Linked DNA regions of Homo sapiens. The protein of the gene in region 3 purifies or fractionates together with the protein of the main gene of each other region. This does not show direct contact. Each region holds a gene or a part of one and is shown on either strand. Other genes may lie near its edges.

Region 1 (4,592 bases), on a different chromosome or scaffold from region 3:
GGCTGTGGCACACCCAGCGTGCCACGTCCACCTACCCACGTCCCTGTGGGTGGCTCAGATGGCATGGCTATGCCTGACCCTGAGGCCCAGCAGAGGCTCCAGGCCCTACCTGGGGTCCTGGTGGCAGACAGCCCCCGAAGTCCGCTTCTGGCCCAGATCAGACTTGTCCATGGGGGGCCCAGTGTCATCCTGCCACTTGACAAAAGTGGCCAAAGTCTCCTGGAGGGCAGAAGAAGGCTGGTGGGTCATGTCGGGGCCAGGTCACCCCCACTGGAGTGGGCAAGGACAGAGGCTTTTCCCATCTCCCCAGGGCTCAGTCTCATCTATGGGGGTCTGGGAAAGGTGGGGCGGGGAGGAGGGAACGTGGTCACTGCCCTTGAAGGACAGGGCAAGTGGAGCTAGTCCGGGACCAGGGTCTGGCAGGGGTAGGAGGGAGGGCCTGCCCCCACCGAGCAGTCCTTCCGCTGGGTCTGGATGCATCCGGAGTGGTCATTCTGGACACAGCAGCCTGAGTCCCGCTCCAGGTCTCGCTCGCGCAGCACCAGCTGCTCGATCTGCCCGTCCTTCCGGATGCAGGGTGAGAACTTGGCCCCCAGGTGGATCAGGTCAATCTGGGGAAGGGAAAGGGAGGGGAGAGAGTGAGTTTGAGCCCCAGACCTGGGAGGGGTCCATCACTCCACCTCTGCCCCGCAGAGTCTCCCCTGATGAGGGGCCTGCGGGTGGGTGAGGAGCCCACCTGCCCAGCTGGGAGTGACAGGGCACAGGGACTCCTGGCTCAGATGATGTCCCCCAGCCTGGGCCCTCACCGAGCTGGGGCCAACCCAGAAGTTCTCCTGCTGGATGTACTTCACGCTCTCGTACACACCTTTGTTCCGCAGCACCTATCGTGGAGGTAGCACAGAGGAGGGCGTCAGAACAGTGTGGGCCCTGGGCATGGGGAGCTGGGGCAGCTGTCCCCAGGATAGAGCCTCCAGGAAGGGGCCAGGCTATGGTGAGCACCACCCTGCTGGGGCCAGATTGTTGCGGTGGGAGGGATTAGGTACCCACGACACTGAGGCCTCCTAGGAGAGGCTGGGACCCCCAGCATGGAGCCTGACCCGACTCACCAGCTGGGTGGTGACGTGCTGGGCAAAGCCCACGGGTGCGATGCCATACGTGCAAATCACCAGCAGCGTGATGATGACATGGACGAAGGTCAGCCAGTAGGTGAAGTAGGGCCTGTGCAGAGACACCTCGGGTCAGCTGAGCCGAGCTCCTATCCCAACCCCCAGTCCCGGCCACAGGGCCACCCTGGCCTGGTCACATGGCTCGCCTGGGCTCCCTGTTCTGCCCCGTCAACTCATCTCAAACCAGAGGAACTTTTAAGACGAGCCTCCAAGCATCTCTCTCCTAGCTTAAAACCTTTTGATAGCTTTCCACTGGCCTTGGGACAAATTCCAGAATCACCCCCTCTTGCTGGCTGCAAAGCTTTGCCTGACCGACCACCTCTCTGGCCTCTTTGCCTGCATTTCCTGGGATGTACTTTGCCCTTCCAGCCCCAGGGCCTTTGCACATGACATCACAGTTTGTCCTGACTGCACCCCTCCCCACCAGCTGTTCACTCTCCCTCTCTATCCTCCTCCGGGACACCCACCACACCTATCATTGCTTGTTCTTTTCTTTTCTTTTTTTTTTTTTGAGACAGAGTCTCGCTCTGTCACCTAGGCTGGAATGCAGTTGTGCGATCTCAGCTCACTGCAACCTTCGCCCCCAGGTTCAAGCGATTCTCCTGCCTCAGCCTCCCTCGTAGCTGGGATTACAAGCACCCACCATACCTGCCTAATTTTGTTTGTCTTTTTAGTAGAGACCAGTTTTCACTGTGTTGGCCAGGCTGGTCTCGAACTCCTGACCTCAGGTGATCTGCCCACCTAGGCCTCCCGAAGTGCTGGGATTACAGGTGTGAGCCACCGGGCCTGGCCATTGCTTGTTATTTTCTTTTTCTTTTCTTTCTTTTTTTTTTGAGATGGAATTTCGCTCTTGTTGCCCAGGCTGGAGTACAATGGTGCGATCCTGGCTCACTGCAACCTCTGCCTCCCAGGTTCAAGTGATTCTCCTGCCTCAAGCCTCCCGAGTAGCTGGGATTACAGGCATGCACCACCACGCCCGGCTAATTTTTTGTATTTTTAGTAGAGATGGGGTTTCACCATGTTGGCCAGGCTGGTCTTGAACTCCTGACCTCAGGTGATCCGCCTGCCTCGGCCTCAGAAAGTGCTGGAATTACAGGCGTGAGCCACCGCGCCCTGCCTGCTTGTTATTTTCTAATTTGGGCCCAGTGTTTATTGGGCTGCTGCAAATCAGATGCCCTGTTCTTCCCCAAGGGCTCTGCATAGCCTCTCCCAGAGTCCCCTCCCTCCCAGCCCCAGCTTCTTCTTTTAAAGTAGAGGTAGGGTCTCACTATGTTGCCCAGGCTGGTCTCAAACTCCTAGGCTCAAGCAATCCTTCTGACTCAGCCTCCCAAAGTGCTATAATTACAAGTGTGAGCCACGGCGCCCAGCCCTGGCCCCAGCTTCTAACTGTCCTCTGACCGACCCTGCCCTCCCTGCTCCACCCTCTGGGGGTTCCATTTTAGGGCCTGCAGGCAGTGACACTCAATGAACATTTGTTGACTGACTGCTGTCTGGGAGCAAGGCTGGGGACCAGGCTCAGAAAGCATGGGGTGGAAGAGAGGCAGCAAGCACCCCTGGCCCTTCCCAGGTCATGTGCACAACCCTTGGGACAGGGTGCGCCTTCGAGCTTGTCACTACACTCCTGATCCGCAGAAGATGCTCATGAAACACTTGCTGAATGAGTAAGGGGGCGCTTCAGGAGGGCCCAGAGGAATTTGGAACCTTCCAGGCTCTCCTGGGGGCTCCAGGGCGACACCTCACCGGTGGCTGTCGAAGCTCTCCAGCTGCCGCTGCACAGTGCTGCTGATGCTGCGGCGGTAGCTGCGGTTCAGCCAGTTGCCCACCACGCCGAGGCCGTAGTGCCGCTTCTTCCGATCAAAGGCAAAGTGCTTCACCTTGGAGGCGATGCGCTTGCCGCGCCGGGGCCCGGGGACTGGGGCTCGGCCATACTCCTTCCTGGTGGGGATGGTGGCTTTCAGCCTGAATCCCCCACCAAAATACTCCCAGACCCCACCAGGGTGCTCAGAAGGGGCTTGGGGGCCAGGGTGAGGTCTGGGGATGCCCCCAGGCTGGTGGCTGGCCTGGAGGAGGGACTCTGCCCCAGCACTCACAGAGGGATTTGCACCCCATCGGGGGAGACAGGGGAGGCTGAGTGTGGGATCCCTCGGAAGTAGCTGGCAGAGAGTGGGGGGGACTCAAAGACATCATCAGGCATGGAGCTCATTTCTTCCTGGGGTGGGGGACAAGAAAATACAGTGTAAGGAGTCTGTCCCAAACACTGCCCCCCGGAACCTCAATTCAAGGGCAGGACACAGCTGAACAGACGGGCTCTTCACAATGAATTGGGAAGCCACATGCCCGTCAGCCCCAATGGTGACTTTCCCGGGTGGCACTGTGCCCCACCGCAGGTCTTCACCCTACCCAACAGAAAGATGGGGGCCCAGCAGCTCCACATAGGACCATGCCACATCCCAGCAGTGGGCCTCTGGGTCCCTCAGGGGTTCCTGAATATGATCAATGCCAAGGTCACCTCACCCAGCTCCCAGGCCACCCCACCCAACTCCTGCTGTCCCACACCCCATGCTTGCCTTACTAAAAAAGGAGGAGTCAAACGTGTCTGCCCCATCGACCACATCCTCCTCCAGGAAGCTCGGGAAGGCAAAGCTGCGCTTGACCACCCGGCACCGCTGTCCGGTGGCATCCAGCACCGAGCGCCCCTGTGCACGGGCAGAGGCACAGCCATCAGGACCACAGCCTGGCCACCTAGGCCCCCAGCCCCAACACCGAAGGAATCATCAAGCCCATCCGCCTGCAGGCAGCGCCTTGGGAGGAGGGATCCTGCCCAAAGCGTGGAGATTCTGCAAGCTGAACGGGCAAGAGGAGCTCCTGAGACTGGAAGGCCAGGAAATGAGACACCAGCTTCCGTTGGCACACCACTCTTGGCACAGTTTGGAGTCACCTTTCCCTTGGTCCCTGCTGCCCCTCTGCCTTGGGCTGCTGGTACCCTAACACTCAAAGCAACCCACATTCTATACCCTCACTCCCGAGGCTTGGGCCATGTCTCCCTGTCCCTGTTTCTTGGCACGGAATACCAGGTCCCTGCCCACCTTTCTGACCCCATCTCCTGCCACAGCTCCTATAACCACCCTTCACTAAAACCACATCAAACCGCCTGCTGCCCCCTCAAAGCACTGTACTTCCTCTGGGCTCCTGGCCCTTGCATAGGCCATTCCCTCTGCTGAGAATGCTGTTCCCTTCCTTCCCTAGTGAACGTCTCCTTGTGTCTTCTGGGCTTAACTCAATGTCTTCCCTGATAACAGCCGCTCTCCTAAACTGACCACCCTGAATGGTGACCCTCACCCTGGGCTGCGAGCTCAGCCAGGATGGCGATGGCTCTGCACGCGGTGCCCAGCACGTAACAGGGACTTGGAAAACCCGGGTGGATGA
Region 2 (4,592 bases), on a different chromosome or scaffold from region 3:
CAAGGCGGGCGGATCGCCTGAGGTTGGGAGTTCAAGACCAGTCTGTCCAGCATGGTGAAACCCCATCTCTACTAAAAATACAAAAATTAGCTGGGCATGGTGGCAGGTGCCTGTAATCCCAGCTACTCGGGAAGGTTAGACAGGAGAATCGCTTGAACCCAGGAGGCAGAGGTTGCAGTGAGCTGAGATCGTGCCATTGCTGTCCAGCCTGGGCGACAAAGCAAGACTCCTTCTAAAAACACACAAATAAATAAAAATAAAAACAAAACAAAACAAAACAAAACACGATTATAGAGTTGGGACTCAGATTAGACAATCAAACTCCAGGGCCCAGGCTCTTAACTCTTTAAGCATACTTAAGAAGGAATGAGGCAGCAATGAGGCATACTTAGAAAATATAGATATTTTTTAAAGCTTATTGACAATTTGAAAATATTGACAAATGTTACCTTCCTAATAACCCTTTAGACAATACTCAGTTTAAAATGGCCTTTAAAGTCCTAAACATGGTTGTAATGTCTTGTGATCTGTTTTGATCCATTAAGAATTGATTAGAGATTATGATAAATTATTTTGATTTTTATATATTTATCATATTGCTTCTAAAATGTGCTTTTTTGTAGAGTTCATAAGTGTTATTCAGCAAAGGTAAATGAATTTATTATATAAAATGAGAAATAACCTATTTATATATCCATTATGAATTTCTCATAAATTGAATTTTTAATATATTTCTAAAGCCACTGAGTTAGGCGGGCAGCGCAGAACGTTCCAGAACAAAAGACATTGTACTTTTTGTGGTAAAATTATCTTCTTTATAAAAATACTTTTGTGGGATGTCTTTTGGAGATTTAGTCAGTTCAGGCTGTTATTACAAATTACCACAGCTTGGGCATTTTATAAACAACAGAAATTCATTTCTTACAGTTCTGAAGGCTGGAAATCCAAGATCTAGGTGCCAACATGATCCAGTGCTGGTGAGGGCCCCCTTCTGAGTTTTAAACTGCTGACTTGTATTTTCACATGGCGGGAAGATAGCTCTTTAGCATCTTTTTAAAAGGCACTAATTCCATTCCTGAGGGCTCCACTCTCATAACCTAATTGCCTCTCAAAGGCCACACTCCCAAATACCATCATAATGGGATTAGGATTCCAACATGAATTTTGTGGTTACAAGAATATTCAGTTAGTTGGAGAGATCCTTACATTTAAAATAAGAAAAGTGTCTTTTCGTGACTGCTATACAATTGGAAGAAAGTTATTGCTACGATATGAACAAAAACTAAAGGTATATTTTCTATAAAATCAAAGATAAATTGAGATAAATTTGTAATTTTAAGTATAAAGCAAAATAAAATACCTACAGCAGCCACGCAGGTATCATAGGTAAGATAACGTTGGCCATATTATGGAGACTGTACAACAAATTTTAGAAGATATACATGATAGGATATGTATATAAAGAGAGACTAAAATCCTGTATCTCATTGATTCATTGTGAGAGTAAAGCTTTTCATTAGCTGGATCTTGGAAAACTCCCACTTTCTACAAAACTGTCATTTCTCAAGCATATATATATATATACATATATATATATATATATATATATATAGTATTCAAAATTTTTTAGAAACTCTTGCATATAATGTCATCTTCAGACTTCAAAGCATTACTCAGATGCTCCTTTGGATTGTGCTTGCCAGTTCTTACACAGTTGAGAAACAGTTCTATAACAACTGTTTTTTAACCACATTCACTGTGTTTTCTTTTTGTGTGTGTGTATGTGTGTGTGCCTGTGTTGCAGAGAAGGCCAGCAATCGCCAGAACAATGGCAGAAGATGTACGGTAGATGCTCCGGGAATGAAGTCTACCACATTGTTTTGGAAGAAAGTACATTTTTTGCTGAATATGAAGGAAAGAGTTTTACATATGCCTCTTTCCATGCACACAAAAAGTATGTTTCTGCCTCAGAGAAAAATTAAAATATCAATCAGTCAAGCATATCATGTGAAAATAGTTTTCAAAAATAGAATGCATATTGTGTTCATGTGTTTAGGCATTCCGGAATTTTTGTCACAATATTCCCCAATGTTGAAACATTTGAACCCTGGTGTCTGTATGGTCTCTATAAGACAGTCAGGAGTAAATTATAATTTAGTAGGAATATTTCATTTAGCCACTTTTAAAGTCTTTTTAAAATATTTTAATCCATTAAGAATTTACATACATATGAAAATCTTCTTCACAGATCTGAATTTTAAGATGTTGATTAGGAACTAAAACAAAGTAACACTAATATTTCTAAAAACTGTACATTTGAAAAAAAAATCTCTGATGGTGGCCCTTGTTTTGGCCTGAGAAATAAGTTAAAAAATAAATAAAACTACCTTCCAATTCAAACATAGAACTTTTTTTTTCTTTTCCTTTTTGGAAAAAAAAAGGATTTACTTAAGAAGTAAAAATGTATGTATATAATGAAAATAACATATTATCTGTATTAAATGTTTTAATGTGACACATTTTGGAGGATTTACAATATACGTATATAGTCTACTAACTAATCTATTATGTAATGTACAGGAACCCCCAACTTATGATGCTTTGACTTACTATTTTTTTACCATGATGGTACAAAACAATAGCCATTCAGTAGAAACCATACTTCCAGTATCCATACAATCATTTTATTTTTCACTTTCAGTAGAATATTCAATAAATTACATAAGATATTTAACACTTTATTATAAAACAGGCTTGGTATTAGATGATTTTGCCCAACTGTAGGCAATGTAAGTGTTATGAGTATGTTTAAGGTTGGCTAGGTTAAAACTATGATATTTGTTAGGCTAGCTGTATTAAAAGCATTTTTTATTTAACAATATTTTCAACTTATGCTGGGTTTATCAGGACATAACTCTATTATAAGTCAAGGAGCTTCTGTATTCTACTTTACTTTTTTTTTCTGACTAAGTACATACCTATTTAAGACTATTTAAATATATATATTTTTTCTAAAATTTAAAGTAAACCAACTGTGATAAATTCAGGGACCCTGGTTCTCTTTCAGGTGACCATGGGTAAGTTTCTTTCCTTTGGCCAATAGTTTTAAGCTTTTTATTTATTTTTTTTAACCAAAGTAAGATATGCTGTTTATGTTTTTTGACCAAAGTAAAATTGTTGTAAAAATTCGCAAAATAATGTTACCCTTAGTGTATACATGCACTCATGTTTCTTATGTTCTTCCATTCATTTTCATTAAAATGTAAATTTATAGTGGTCATAATCAGCTAAATTGGTTTTACAACACACTAAGCACATAGTTTATTTTCCTGTAAAAATGAGGATCTTGAACTTCTAGGATCATTTCAAGCTTTAAAATGCTATTATTTAAAGCTTTTATTTTCCTCAGCCTTACAATAATTTACTAATTTTCTTACAAACTCTCTTTTTTTTTAAATTAAGGTTTGGCGTCTGCTTGATTGGTGTTAGGAGGGAGGATAATAAAAACATTTTGCTGAATCCAGGTCCTCGATACATTATGAATTCTACAGACATATGCTTTTATATTAATATTACCAAAGAAGAGAATTCAGCATTTAAAAACCAAGACCAGCAGAGAAAAAGCAATGTGTCCAGGTCGTTTTATCATGGACCTTCCAGATTACCTGTACATAGCATAATTGCCAGCATGGGTAAGTATAAACAAATTTGAAATATCATTAATTTATTTCTAAAATAAAAAATAATGATAAATACCAATGCATTTAAATTTTTATTAAAAGTTTAAAGAAAATTTCAAACATGCTGCATTTTACAAACTAGGTATGACTAGGTATACAGGACAACAGTTCTAAGTTGTGAATTTTTTAAAAAGTAAGATATTAGCCTACTGTGGTGGCATATGTCTATAATACTACCTATTCCAGAGGCTGAGGTGGAAGAATTGCTTGAGCCAGGAGTTTGAGAACAGCCTGGGCAACAGAAAAAGACTCTGTGTCCAAAAAAACCTCAATCTAAGATATTACAAAAACACAATCAACAATCATTTTATATTTCTCATTATATATAAAGCACCACACACTTTTATATTTCTTTTGTAAGTTCTCTTTGTAATTATCATCAAGAGAGGCTATTTCAAATATTCTTCATTTTCTCAAAATTCTCTTTCCATCTCTTACCTCACTCTCACCACTGAACTTGGCTTCTATGACACAGAAGAAGAAAGGTAAAAGAAAAAATACCTCCATGCAAATAAGAATTTCTTTACGGTTTGGCCTCCAAACCATCTACAAACCTACAAACATTTAGTATCTGTCACAAGGAAAATGTGTCATTTTTAACTAATACTGATACATTCATTTATTCCAGGAACCATGCCCTTGTTCCTCCTCAGAGACTTTACTCTTTAATCCCTCCTCATTACCTAACTTCATTTTCTATTCAGAATCACTGGCTGATCTCTCTCTCTCTGTGTCTCTGTCTCTCTCTCTCTCTCTCTCTCTCTCTCTCTCTGTGTGTGTGTGTGTCTCTTCATATCTCTGTGTGCACCATACACTTGTAATTTTGAACCTTCCATGATAACAACTTCAGAG
Region 3 (5,686 bases):
TTAAATTTTGATTGATATTTTAGTGACTCAGGAAGGACAGTGTAATAAAACTGCATTATTATCATTTATGTAAACATTTTCATATACTGATGTTATTAGGCAAGGAAAACGATGCATAGAGAAAGACTGTTATCAGAATAGTGCACTGCATTTGTTTCTTCTGATTGGAAAAGAATGATATCTTTTTTGAAATTTATTTCGTGTGATAGATCATTTATCAGCAGGTAAGAATAGAGGTTTCCACTCTCTCTTGACTTTAACTACCCACCTCCCCTCTAACCAGCCACCTGCTCTTCCAGCTTTTTACAGGGTTCCTCAGTTGATCTTGAAGGCGCAGATACACATTCCAAACTAAGTTTTGCAAATGTTTTAATTCAGACACTTTCAGACTCAGCATCCTCTAGCTGTCCCTATCTTTAGCTCTGACAATTGCACGGGCATGTTTTTTAGAAGGGCTAATCACTCCTACATGTTTTAAATAGTCAAATGATACAAATATATACAAATTATTTATTAAATTAAAGAAGATGACAATAATGTATTATTGGGCAAGAAGATGTGGACATATAGTGTACATACTGACTATACACTGTAATAAAGCATGTTATGATCATTTCATAAAAATAAATCTTAAGTTTTCCTGAGATGCTGATCATTTTACACATCTCAACATCTGATATTGAGCAATAGGCTCATACTTTATCACACTAATCAATATAATAATTTTGGAGTATATCATGTCTTTTTAATCATCAAAACCTATAACTCAAAGAACATATTTTTCCCATCAGAGTTCCAATCAGATTTATTATGAGTATCTTTGATGTCAACATGAGTTTTAACAGGCAAACAGGTGTGATGGCCACATTATTGCCATTATTACTGAATCTGCCTATGCCTAAAAGGAAGTACGATATACCAGTTCTGTTGTTTGTTATACAGAGGCAATGCAGGCTGCTTTTGTTCATGCAATATGCCGTTTACCAAGTATGGCTTGGTTCAGGAAAATGTCACTGCATGGTTCAATATTTCAGAGTCTCCTAAGTTTAAAATATAGGACACACTCTAAACATTAAGTATGTTGCTAGCTCATCTTGAGTGTCACTTCAACAATTGCTGAAGTTTTTATATAGCTCTTAAAATGCCCCACATGTAGGAGTCAATTAAAATAGTACATATGACTAAAAGCTAAAAATCTGCATTTTTATTTCTGTTGCAGTTTTGTAATCAACCACGAACGATGAAACCTTCCATAGCTGAGATGCTTCACAGAGGAAGGATGTTGTGGATAATTCTTCTAAGCACAATTGCTCTAGGATGGACTACCCCGATTCCCCTAATAGAGGACTCAGAGGAAATAGATGAGCCCTGTTTTGATCCATGCTACTGTGAAGTTAAAGAAAGCCTCTTTCATATACATTGTGACAGTAAAGGATTTACAAATATTAGTCAGATTACCGAGTTCTGGTCAAGACCTTTTAAACTGTATCTGCAGAGGAATTCTATGAGGAAATTATATACCAACAGTTTTCTTCATTTGAATAATGCTGTGTCTATTAATCTTGGGAACAATGCATTGCAGGACATTCAGACTGGAGCTTTCAATGGTCTTAAGATTTTAAAGAGACTATATCTACATGAAAACAAACTAGATGTCTTCAGAAATGACACCTTCCTTGGCTTGGAAAGTCTAGAATATCTGCAGGCAGATTACAATGTCATTAAACGTATTGAGAGTGGGGCATTTCGGAACCTAAGTAAATTGAGGGTTCTGATTTTAAATGATAATCTCATCCCCATGCTTCCAACCAATTTATTTAAGGCTGTCTCTTTAACCCATTTGGACCTACGTGGAAATAGGTTAAAGGTTCTTTTTTACCGAGGAATGCTAGATCACATTGGCAGAAGCCTGATGGAGCTCCAGCTGGAAGAAAACCCTTGGAACTGTACATGTGAAATTGTACAACTGAAGAGTTGGCTGGAACGCATTCCTTATACTGCCCTGGTGGGAGACATTACCTGTGAGACCCCTTTCCACTTCCATGGAAAGGACCTACGAGAAATCAGGAAGACAGAACTCTGTCCCTTGTTGTCTGACTCTGAGGTAGAGGCTAGTTTGGGAATTCCACATTCGTCATCAAGTAAGGAGAATGCATGGCCAACTAAGCCTTCCTCAATGCTATCCTCTGTTCATTTTACTGCTTCTTCTGTCGAATACAAGTCCTCAAATAAACAGCCTAAGCCCACCAAACAGCCTCGAACACCAAGGCCACCCTCCACCTCCCAAGCTTTATATCCTGGTCCAAACCAGCCTCCCATTGCTCCTTATCAGACCAGACCACCAATCCCCATTATATGCCCCACTGGGTGTACCTGTAATTTGCACATCAATGACCTTGGCTTGACTGTCAACTGCAAAGAGCGAGGATTTAATAACATTTCTGAACTTCTTCCAAGGCCCTTGAATGCCAAGAAACTGTATCTGAGTAGCAATCTGATTCAGAAAATATACCGTTCTGATTTTTGGAATTTTTCTTCCTTGGATCTCTTGCATCTGGGGAACAATCGTATTTCCTATGTCCAAGATGGGGCCTTTATCAACTTGCCCAACTTAAAGAGCCTCTTCCTTAATGGCAACGATATAGAGAAGCTGACACCAGGCATGTTCCGAGGCCTACAGAGTTTGCACTACTTGTACTTTGAGTTCAATGTCATCCGGGAAATCCAGCCTGCAGCCTTCAGCCTCATGCCCAACTTGAAGCTGCTATTCCTCAATAATAACTTACTGAGGACTCTGCCAACAGACGCCTTTGCTGGCACATCCCTGGCCCGGCTCAACCTGAGGAAGAACTACTTCCTCTATCTTCCCGTGGCTGGTGTCCTGGAACACTTGAATGCCATTGTCCAGATAGACCTCAATGAGAATCCTTGGGACTGCACCTGTGACCTGGTCCCCTTTAAACAGTGGATCGAAACCATCAGCTCAGTCAGTGTGGTTGGTGATGTGCTTTGCAGGAGCCCTGAGAACCTCACGCACCGTGATGTGCGCACTATTGAGCTGGAAGTTCTTTGCCCAGAGATGCTGCACGTTGCACCAGCTGGAGAATCCCCAGCCCAGCCTGGAGATTCTCACCTTATTGGGGCACCAACCAGTGCATCACCTTATGAGTTTTCTCCTCCTGGGGGCCCTGTGCCACTTTCTGTGTTAATTCTCAGCCTGCTGGTTCTGTTTTTCTCAGCAGTCTTTGTTGCTGCAGGCCTCTTTGCCTACGTGCTCCGAAGGCGTCGAAAGAAGCTGCCCTTCAGAAGCAAGCGGCAGGAAGGTGTGGACCTTACTGGCATCCAAATGCAATGCCACAGGCTGTTTGAGGATGGTGGAGGTGGTGGTGGCGGAAGTGGGGGTGGTGGTCGACCAACTCTTTCCTCTCCAGAGAAGGCCCCTCCCGTGGGTCATGTGTATGAGTACATCCCCCACCCGGTTACCCAAATGTGCAACAACCCCATCTACAAGCCTCGTGAGGAGGAGGAGGTGGCTGTTTCATCAGCCCAAGAAGCAGGGAGTGCAGAACGTGGGGGTCCAGGGACACAACCACCGGGAATGGGTGAGGCTCTCCTAGGAAGTGAGCAGTTTGCTGAGACACCCAAGGAGAACCATAGTAACTACCGGACCTTGCTGGAAAAAGAGAAGGAGTGGGCCCTAGCAGTGTCCAGCTCCCAGCTTAACACCATAGTGACGGTGAATCACCATCACCCTCACCACCCAGCAGTTGGTGGGGTTTCAGGAGTAGTTGGGGGAACTGGGGGAGACTTGGCAGGGTTCCGCCACCATGAGAAAAATGGTGGGGTGGTGCTGTTTCCTCCTGGGGGAGGCTGTGGTAGTGGCAGTATGCTACTAGATCGAGAGAGGCCACAGCCTGCCCCCTGCACAGTGGGATTTGTGGACTGTCTCTATGGAACAGTGCCCAAATTAAAGGAACTGCACGTGCACCCTCCTGGCATGCAATACCCAGACTTACAGCAGGATGCCAGGCTCAAAGAAACCCTTCTCTTCTCGGCTGGAAAGGGCTTCACAGACCACCAAACCCAAAAAAGTGATTACCTCGAGTTAAGGGCCAAACTTCAAACCAAGCCGGATTACCTCGAAGTCCTGGAGAAGACAACATACAGGTTCTAACAGAGAGAAGAAAATATATTAGTGCTTTTTTTTTTTCAAAAGAAAAGGAAAATAAAAGAAATATATCCCTTGCTCCCTTTACACTTGTCCCAGTAACTCCATCCTCACGATCTTTCCTACCCTGAACAAAACTAAAACCGCATGATAACTAGAGAATACAGATGTATGCTCTCCCCTCTCAGATGCGATTTGGAGGAAGGGCCATACTCAGATCATTAATCAATGAAAGTGCCTTCGCAGACTTTTGCCAGCAAATGTTATCATTATTTTTTTATACTGAAACTTGAGACTTTGACTGTGCCATGTATAAGATATACTGGGGATCATTGTATGGATCCTAATTAAGTAAAATTCAATGTGTCTTTTTATTTTCAGTAACTATTTTTTTTATAGTTGTAGTTTTGATTTAAAGGGGGGGAAACAAGTTGACATTTGTCATTTGTGGCTTTCTTTCTTATCATCATGGCACAGATTCTGTACATGTATTAACAATGCAGTTTGCTGCATGCCTGGAAACTGCAAGATGGGGAGGGAGGGGGCGGGTCTTGCTCGAATGTTCTCACTCACTATCTTGTCTCTCATACACATATCCATCTGCAGACCATGGTCCCTAAACCTGCAGTTTCTTCCTGCTGGTGCAGGTACACACACACACACACACACACACACACACACACACACACACTCCATACCATTTCCATTCAACTCAATCTGCTTAGTTCGGGTTTGATCCATTTTTCTCCTCTCCATAGTTCTACCACCCTTCACTGCTAGTGTACAGCTCACAGCATCTCTCCTACCACCCTGGGAAAAGTCACATTCTAGGCTGGATTCTACTGAAGTAGAGGCCTGGTGGTTTAACAGCCGAAGACACACGCCTAGGGATGAGCACCCTCTTTGTGACACTTCATCCTGATGCCAAGATTTTTTGGAGAACATCTGCACTTTCTTATATATATATATAATATTAAAAAAAGCAACTGGGTATATATCACTAACAGCTTTGTAGGAAGCACTTTTAATGTTTTCTCTCTCACACACAAAGATTCAAAAGAAATGTGCATATATTTATTCTGTAATTTCAGTGATTATAAATTGTAAAGGTAATGTTTAATCATTGTATAGTGATTATGCCTCTGGTATAGCTTTCCTAATAAAAAGTTTTTGAAAAACATAATACATTATATATAGAGGATACAAAGCTTGAACCTTAAACTCCAGCTATGCCATGCCTTTCGTGCTTCCATTTTAGAAATGATTTCTTTTACTTGTTACACAGAAAGTAATTTATTAACGGGTTTGATGCACTGTGATGTTGATAAATCTTATATCCCACCATCTCTAGTCCAAACCAGGATACAATTGAGACTTAAAATGTGACTTACGGTTTACTTTTTTTTCCTTGAATTATGAATTTCAGTCTTAGTAACCAGTGATGCACTGTTTCCCAGGCAAGATGCAAGGGGGAGAAAATAAAGTAACTAGATCGCTAAGAAGTACAGGATTAATTAG

Evidence for each region. The genes of interacting proteins can lie anywhere in the genome.
Region 1: the proteins of SLITRK3 (region 3) and RHBDF2 purify together in Homo sapiens (affinity purification with mass spectrometry; one large-scale study listed by BioGRID and IntAct). This does not show direct contact.
Region 2: the proteins of SLITRK3 (region 3) and KCNT2 purify together in Homo sapiens (affinity purification with mass spectrometry; one large-scale study listed by BioGRID and IntAct). This does not show direct contact.

The regions. Positions count from the first base shown.
Region 1 is NC_000017.11:76,473,924-76,478,515, forward strand, and holds part of RHBDF2 (inactive rhomboid protein 2), read right to left. Parts: intron 3,863-4,592; coding exon 3,734-3,862; intron 3,376-3,733; coding exon 3,257-3,375; intron 3,102-3,256; coding exon 2,907-3,101; intron 1,219-2,906; coding exon 1,107-1,218; intron 882-1,106; coding exon 807-881; coding exon of another isoform or gene 737-806; intron 612-736; coding exon 450-611; intron 220-449; coding exon 110-219; intron 1-109. UniProt on the Homo sapiens protein: Regulates ADAM17 protease, a sheddase of the epidermal growth factor (EGF) receptor ligands and TNF, thereby plays a role in sleep, cell survival, proliferation, migration and inflammation. Does not exhibit any protease activity on its own.
Region 2 is NC_000001.11:196,339,441-196,344,032, reverse strand, and holds part of KCNT2 (potassium channel subfamily T member 2), read left to right. Parts: intron 1-927; exon of another isoform or gene 928-977; intron 978-1,804; coding exon 1,805-1,954; intron 1,955-3,462; coding exon 3,463-3,692; intron 3,693-4,592. UniProt on the Homo sapiens protein: Sodium-activated and chloride-activated potassium channel. Produces rapidly activating outward rectifier K(+) currents. Contributes to regulate neuronal excitability.
Region 3 is NC_000003.12:165,186,385-165,192,070, reverse strand, and holds the end of SLITRK3 (SLIT and NTRK-like protein 3 precursor), read left to right. Parts: intron 1-1,219; 5' UTR 1,220-1,240; coding exon 1,241-4,174; 3' UTR 4,175-5,351; downstream 5,352-5,686. UniProt on the Homo sapiens protein: Suppresses neurite outgrowth.